Linked DNA regions of Homo sapiens. The protein of the gene in region 2 interacts with the protein of the main gene of each other region in a biochemical or structural test. Each region holds a gene or a part of one and is shown on either strand. Other genes may lie near its edges.

Region 1 (2,763 bases), on a different chromosome or scaffold from region 2:
GAAGCAACGAAAACTCTGGGGTGAGGGATTGAAAAAATCTGAAATCACAGTTGGATTTTTAAATTCAACCATCAAAAATATGTACTATCAGTTTTTTTTTACATTGATGTGAAATAAGCAAATTTTCATGATAATTAAGCTGCAAAATTTAAAGTTATCAAGTAAATAGGTCCTCTGTGTTCTGTTTCATGTGATGGAGTGGGTTTCAGTCTGTGTTCTTGGAGCCAAAGGGTTCCTCAGGGGTGCCTCAGGAGTAATGGTTTAAGAGAAGAGGGGCAATGAGAGGGAGCGAGGGGGAAGGCCTAGTTGGTATTTGAGCAGGGGCCTTAGGCTCCATATCCCCACCCCCTTTACCCAGAACAGCCCATTTTTCTTATGTATATTGGAATTTCAAGTAAGCTTTCATGGGGTGCAGTGGGGCGGGGAGGAATGGATGGGATAAAAAAAGTGGAGATTTTGCTGCTTTAAAAAAGTTGAGAACTACTTGTGTAGTTTTTAAGTATTTTAATGTATTTCATTTGGCCAAATTCAACTGCCACAAGCAAGCTAGTCATAGTTGTAACTGTGCAGTGGTAATATGCTTATGCCTACCTTTTTCCTCTCAAACAATTTGTTTTTTTTACATTGCATTCTGAGTACTGAAGAGCATCTTGAAATGTATGGAAGTGGTTTCTATGCTATTTGATAATCAGTAATGTTCAGCTGTCATGATAGTACTTTACTGGTTGCAGACCCATCTCTCTTTTATATTAAAGCACTAGTGCAGTTTATAATTGTGCCTACTTTTAAAATCTTTCAGTAAAAAAGTACATAATGAATACAGAAATCATAACTGACAGGGATACAGTAATAATGAAATGCTACTATCACTTATTTTAATATACAATATAAAGCAGGCAAATACCATTGCTTTTTGAGTGCCTTTTTAACTTTATACTAATGACTTAATAGAGCTTTAAAAGAAAGAAATTGGCTGGGCATGGTGGCTCACACCTGTAATCCCAGCACTTTGGGAGGCCGAGGTGGGCGGATCACCTGAGGTCAGGAGTTCGAGACCAGCCTGGCCAACGTGGTGAAACCCTGTCTCTACTAAAAATACAAAATTTAGCCGGGCATGGTGGCGCACTCCTGTAATCCAACTACTTGGGAGGCTGAGGCAGGAGAATTGCTTGAATCTGGGAGGCAGAGATTGCAGTGAGCCGAGATCGCACCACTGCACTCCAGCCTGGGCGACAAGAGTGAGACTCCGTCCCCGCCCAAAAAAAAAAAAAAAAGAAATTACTCTCCATAACAGTCTATGTTATCACCAACATATATAAAAACATGATTTAGATTTCCATTTCAAAGTTACATTACCCGATTACTTCCAAATAGGTGCTAAGCAAAAACCCCCAATGTATTATTGAACCATGGACTTGCACCTCATGTTTAATGTGAATATTTATTTCCATGTCCCTCTTAACTGGTTTTTTCTTGTCTTCCCTCTAGCTGTATTGTTATTTCAGATATGTGATATCTGTTTTCATACTCTTGCCTTTCCATCATGAATGCTTAGTTATGAACAGAGATTCCTTTGTAGAGCTCATAGGCAGTACAGAGAGGTAAGTCTTGCCTCAGAGGGCCTTGTATCTTGGTGTAGTTTTTAAATAGTGCATAGTGTATAGTGTATAGTGTACATTTTGTTTTGCACATAGTTTGTTGCCCCGAATGGGTTTTTTACCAAGCCTTTTTTTCTTTCATGTATTTACAGTCCGGAGCACAAGATTCTCTTCTTTCAAATACAATGTAATTCGCTTTACTTTACAACACTAAATCTGGGCTTTGAATTTCCAGTGCATTGGACTGATTGGATTGTTGGGAGTTAGAGGCTGTTCCAACCATCCTTAGTTTGGGAGAGTGGCTCCTTCTGCTTGTTTTCTAAGCGTACAGTCAACGGGTGCCATTTGTGGTATTTAACATGTTAGGATGATTGTTCCAAATGCTGAGTTGTTTTATTTCTAGATGTAATTAGTTCACTTTATGTAATATTCTTCTCTCAGACTGACTTTAAAAACAAAGTTTTATCATTTTCATTGTATTTGTATTTATTACAGAGTGTTTTAGCTTTGATATTCTTTGTATTTTCATTCATTTGTTACATGAGCTTTATCAGTAACATCTGTATAAATGGTTTTTAAAAATTAACTATGTATGTGCCCATGCCGAAGTCGAGCAATAAAATCAATGCTGTTTGCACTGTCACAGCATCAACGTTTTTAAAGAATATTGAGTTTGTAATGAATCGTTTTGAAAACATTTATGGTTGGCTCTATGGAGGGTGACAACATGAGTCACAAAATGAAAAGTTCAAGAACACATGCCATCCTGAGTTGATGCCTCTGTCATGTTGCAGAGCTCAGCTTTCTGTCTCCTCGCAGAGCAGGGAAGGTGCCCGTTTTCTCCGGCCGTGGTGACTGCTCAGTTGGTAGTACCTGTTGGGGGTACCGCATAGGTGGATTTCTGAGGGGGGTCAGGGGCTAGTGGGGAAGAGCATCTTGGTCCTGTCACCAGTCTGCAACCATCTTTGCTATAATACATCTCCGCTCTGTAGGGCAGGCCTATGACAGGGGCTCATATTTGCCAGCCCTACCTTGGTATGTCGAGCAGTAAAATTCTCAAAATGAAAAGGAGAAATCAATTGTATTTTTTCTAGAAGCTGTGGATTTTAAGGTTTATAATTCACTACTGTATTAATGATAGTGGACTAAAGTCCAGCTAACTCTA
Region 2 (5,240 bases):
CCAAGTTTGTGGGTCATAATGCTAGGAATGTTTAGGAGGCATCTCTTTTTTTGAGGTTAACTTCGGAAGGCACTAACATGATCTCCTGCGTGACTTCCCTTAATGATGTCACTGTTGACATAATACTGGGTGAATTAATGTGATTAAGTAAACTTGCTTACTTACTTCAGGAAACAGAGGTATCTAAACAGATTACATTTTAAAATAAATTGTCAGATGTTTCACTGTAATGGAATTTTCTTTACATCAGTGAAATTGATTACCAGGTAGTGGGATGAACATCTGAAACTAGTTCTTAGTTTAAGTTGTCTGAGTTTTTGTGTATACTTTACCTATTCCCAGTTTAAATTGGCTTTCAAACAGTTTGTTTTCTGGGTACTCTTATAGGTGTTGGGGTATGAAATTAGTGGTAATTCTTTTTGCCTATTTTCTTTTTTTTTGTCTGAGATACCCTGAGTCTCGCTCTGTTGCCCAGACTGGAGTGCAGTGGCACAATTTCGGTTCACTGCAACCTCCGCCTCCTGGGTTCAAATGATTCTCCTGCCTCAGCCTCCTAAGTAGCTGGAATTACAGGCGTGTACCACCTTGCCTGGCTAATTTTGTTGTATTTTTTTTTTTTTGAGATGGAGTTTTGGTCTTGTTGCCCAGGCTGGAGTGCAATGGTGCAAACTCAGTTCACTGCAACCTCTGCTTCTGAGGTTCAAGTGATTCTCCTTCCTCAGCCTCCCCTGTAGCTGGGATTACAGGCATGCACCACCACACCCAGCTAATTTTGTATTTTTGGTAGAGACAGGGCTTTTCCATGTTGGTCAGGCTGGTCTCGAACTCCCAACCTCAGGTGATCTGCCCGCCTTGGCCTCCCAAAGTGCTGAGATTACAGGCGTGAGCTGCCGTGTCCGGCCTCTTTTTGCTAATTTTCTAAATTTATGTTTATAGTAGATTTTCATAAATTATCAAAAGTGAATTATTAGATGTGGAGTAAAAATTCAACTTTGAGTAGTTTTAGAAATTATTTATTGCTAAATTAGAAAATAAACTTTCAAAAGAGATCTCTTTTTTTTAAAAAAACTTAATTGAGACAGGGTCTCACTCTGTCACCCAGGCTGGAGTACAGTGGTGCAACCTTGGCTCACTGCAGCCCCTACCTCCTGGGTTCAAGCAATTCTTGTGCCTCAGCCTCCCAGGTAGCTGGGAATACAGGCATGTGCCACCACGCCCAGCTAAATTTTGTGTTTTTAGTAGAGACAGGGTTTCACCGTGTTGCCCGGGCTGGTCTCGAACTCCTGACTTCAAGTGATCCGCCCACCTTGGCCTCCCAAAGTGCTGGGATTACAGGCGTGAGTCACTATGCCTGGCCTAGAGATGGGATCTGCTTTTTTTTTTTTTTTTTTTTTGAGATGGAGTCTTGCTCTGTCACCCAGGCTGGAGTGCAATGGCACGATCTCAACTCACTGCAACCTCCGCTTCCCAGGTTCAGGCAATTCTCCTGTCTCAGCCTCCTAAGTAGCTGGGATTACAGGCACCTGCCATCATCCCTGACTAATTTTTGTATTTTTGTAGACGGGGTTTCACCATGTTGGCCAGGCTATTCTTGAACTCCTGACCTCAGGTGATCCGACCGCCTCGGCCTCCCAAAGTGCTGGGATTATAGGCATTAGCTACCGCGTCTGGCCTCTAGAGATGGGATCTTGCTTGCTCTGTTGCCAGGTTGGCCTTGAACTCAGGCTAGGGTTAAGTGATCTTTGTGCCTCGGCCTCTCCAGTAGCTGGGACTACAGGTGCGTGCCACCACTCGCAGCCTAAAATACTTTTTAAATCTCACCTACTTTCTAGCAGTATTTTATTTTATTTGGGCGCAGCTCTGCCATCAGTAGGCTGAGCTCCCTGCAGCCTCAAACTCCTGGGCTGAAGCAATGCCTCTGCCTCAGCCTCCTGAGTAGCTGGGACTACAGGTTTGTGCCACCACACCTGGCTATATTTTTATTTTTTTGTAGAGATGGGGTCTTGCTGTGTTGCCCAGGCTGGTCTGGAACTCCTGGCCTCAAGTTATTCTCCTGCATCAGCCTTCCAAATTGCTGGGATTACAGGCTTGAGCCACCATGCCCAGCTTTAGCAATTTTTTTTTTTTGAGACGGAGTCTCGCTCTATTGCCCAAGCTGGAGTGCAGTGGTGCGATCTCAGCTCACTGCAACCTCAGCTTCCTGGGTTCAAACAGTTCTCCTGCCTCAGCCTCCCAAATAGCTGGGATTACAGGCACGTGTCACCACACCTGGCTAATTTTTTGTATTTTTAGTAGAGATGGGGTTTCACCGTGTTAGCCAGGATGGTCTCGATCTCCTGACCTTGTGATCCAACCGCCTCAGCCTCCCTAAGTGCTGGGATTACAGGCATGTGCCACCGCACCTGGCCAGCAATATTTTAATATAGCACAGAAGTCCTTTCTAAATGTGTATAGTGAGAATCCATTGAGGATGAAATAGAAAATATTTACCAAAGTTTAACAACTTAGTCAATAAAAATAAAACTTTCTCTTTCCGTAATAAGTCAATCTCAGCATTCTAAAATAGGCAATGGAGGGGGGAAGAAATCTCTATGGGAAGGGTCCACTGGATCTTAACAGTTTCAACTAGTGTTCCACAATATTTCTGCTGTACTTGGGGAGAATTTCTGGATAATTAGAATAGTCTGAGGCTTATTCCTTTTAGTTTCCCATAGCCTGATTGAGATAGAGCTATAAGACCAGCTATAACATTGTACAGAAGACTCAGAGATAAACAAGTGAAAAAGATAACTGAGATTAATGTTGAACTAAGAATATGATTGTTCTCTGAGGCACTACCTGCTAGTTCCTGGATTACCTTTATATGTGGCCAAGGTGGGGATTGGGAAGCAAGGGAGCAAAAGCCCTAGAGCTAAGGGAGAGAGAATTTCTGCCTGCCTAAGATGAACCTTCTGAGTTGGATATTTTTTTTTCTTCCCCCTTGAGACGGAGTCTCACTCTGTCGCCAGACTGGAGTGCAGTGGCATGATCTCAGCTCACTGCAACCCCCGACTCCCTGGTTCAAATGATTTTCCTGCCTCAGCCTCCCGAGTAGCTGGGATTACAGGCACGTACCACCACACCCAGCTCATTTTTGTGTTTTTAGTAGGGATGGGGTTTCACCATGTTGGCCAGGACAGTCTCGATCTCCTCCTTGTGATTCGCCCGCCTTGGCCTCCCAAAGTGCTGGGATTACAGCTGTGAGCCACCGTGCCCGGCCTTGAGTTGGAATTTCTTTCTAAAGTCTTGCTCCTTTCTGTAGTTTGGCTTTCCTTTCAGGGTATCTGATTTTGCCTTCCTGCTCCTAGGCTTGTGACCTGACCTGATGCTGTCAATTACAGGAGAATGCAGAGGTGCAAGAAATTTTTTTTTTTTTGAGATGGAGTTTCGCTCTTGTTGCCCAGGTTGGGGTGCAATGGCACAATCTCGGCTCACAGCAACCTCCGCCTCCCGGGTTCAAGCTATTCTCCTGCCTCAGCCTCCCGAGTAGCTGGGATTACAGGCATGCGGCACCACACCCAGCTAATTTTGTATTTTTAGTAGAGACGGAGTTTTTCCATGTTGGTCAGGCTGGTCTTGAACTCCCGACCTTAGGTGATCCGCCCGCCTCTGCCTCCCAAAGTGCTGGGATTACAGGTGTGAGCCACCACGCCCGGCCAGAAGAAATTTTTTGTGTTTTGTTAATACAGTCAGCCACGAATAGCTAACAGCTAACAGCTGGTCCCTCATATTTGTGGGTTCCATATCTGCTAATTCAACCATTGATTGAAAATATTCAGAAAAAGAGACCACAATAAAAAATAACAATATAACAATAAAAGTGGGAATTAAAAACAATACGTATAACAACTACTTACATAACATTTACATTGCATTATTATATGTAATCTAGAGATGATTTGAAATATATGGGAGGATGTGTGTAGGTTATGTGCCGTTTAAGGCACTATAAGAGACTTTTGAGTATCTGTGGATTTTGGTATCCGATGGGAGGATCCTGGAACCAGTTCCCTGCAGCTATGGAGGTTTGACTATAATTATTTAGCATGTACTATTTGCTGTTCTAAATATACTGTTCTAAGCTCTTTATATATATTATTTCATTTAATCCTCCCAGTAATCCTGTGAGATAGATTCAGTATTATTATTATCCCCATTTCTCATTTAAGGAAAATTATTCCAGAGAGGTTAAGTAACTTGCTCAAAGTCATGCTAGCAGGTATCCTGAGATTAAATCCAGGCAGTCTGACTTGAGAGCCTTACTTACGTGCAGTATACTTCCTCTTTGAAGAGCAGGAAAACTGTGGGATATGGTGGCATGTTTCCTTAATATCTGTTAAGGCACACTTTGGTAAATGCTAAAATAGAAGCACAAAGTGCTATAGAATTTAAGGGAGGGGAAGTTCGTTTTTGTTTTTGTTTTTGTTTTTTCTTTTTTTTGAGATGGAGTCTTACTCTGTCACCCAGGCTGGAGTGCAGTAGCGCAATCTCAGCTCACTGCCACCTCCACCTCCCGGGTTCAAGTGATTCTCCTGCCTCAGCCTCCCGAGTAGCTGGGACTACAGGTGTGCACCACCACGCCCGGCTAAGTTTTGTATTTTTTAGTAGTGCTGGGATTACAGGTGTGAGCCACTGTGCCTGGCCGGGAAGTTCGTTTTAACTGAAGAGCTCTTTAGCAGCTTTGTAGAAGAAAGCTTCATATTAGATCTTGATGAATAGATAGATTTTGACAGATATCTCTCTGAGGTAGGCAGTCAAGCGGTGGCCAGAGTGGAAGAATTACTGTCCAGATTTACATATAGGTTTCCTGATTATTTAAATTACCGATGAAGTGCAGTAAGACTCTACTGTTGTCACAGTATCATTTCAGTTAGCTATTGGCGTTTAGAATCACAAAATACCAGCATCTTACAGTGATAGGTATTTATTCTCTTGAAATTGTGGGTTTGCTGGGTAGTGGATGATCTAAACTTGGCTTACTCAAAGTCAAAAGCCCAAAGTCAAGCAGGGCAGGGAGTAACTTGCACAATACTATAGTGACAGTAATCTACTGCAGTGATCTAGTACAGTTGATTTAGAGAAGAATGGTAAGATGCTTATTATGACAACTATTGTGCTTTCTTCTTTCTGCTCTCTATTGTTGACACTCTCCTGATAGCACTTTTTCATTTTGGTTGCTGAATAATACCTGTTGATTGGAT

What was found.
Region 1: of the proteins of BTRC (region 2) and SMURF2, one has a biochemical effect on the other in vitro, tested with the Homo sapiens proteins (one study listed by BioGRID).

What each region holds. Positions count from the first base shown.
Region 1 is NC_000017.11:64,541,782-64,544,544, reverse strand, and holds the end of SMURF2 (E3 ubiquitin-protein ligase SMURF2), read left to right. Parts: 3' UTR 1-2,263; downstream 2,264-2,763. UniProt on the Homo sapiens protein: E3 ubiquitin-protein ligase which accepts ubiquitin from an E2 ubiquitin-conjugating enzyme in the form of a thioester and then directly transfers the ubiquitin to targeted substrates.
Region 2 is NC_000010.11:101,358,998-101,364,237, forward strand, and holds part of BTRC (F-box/WD repeat-containing protein 1A), read left to right. Parts: intron 1-5,240. UniProt on the Homo sapiens protein: Substrate recognition component of a SCF (SKP1-CUL1-F-box protein) E3 ubiquitin-protein ligase complex which mediates the ubiquitination and subsequent proteasomal degradation of target proteins. Recognizes and binds to phosphorylated target proteins.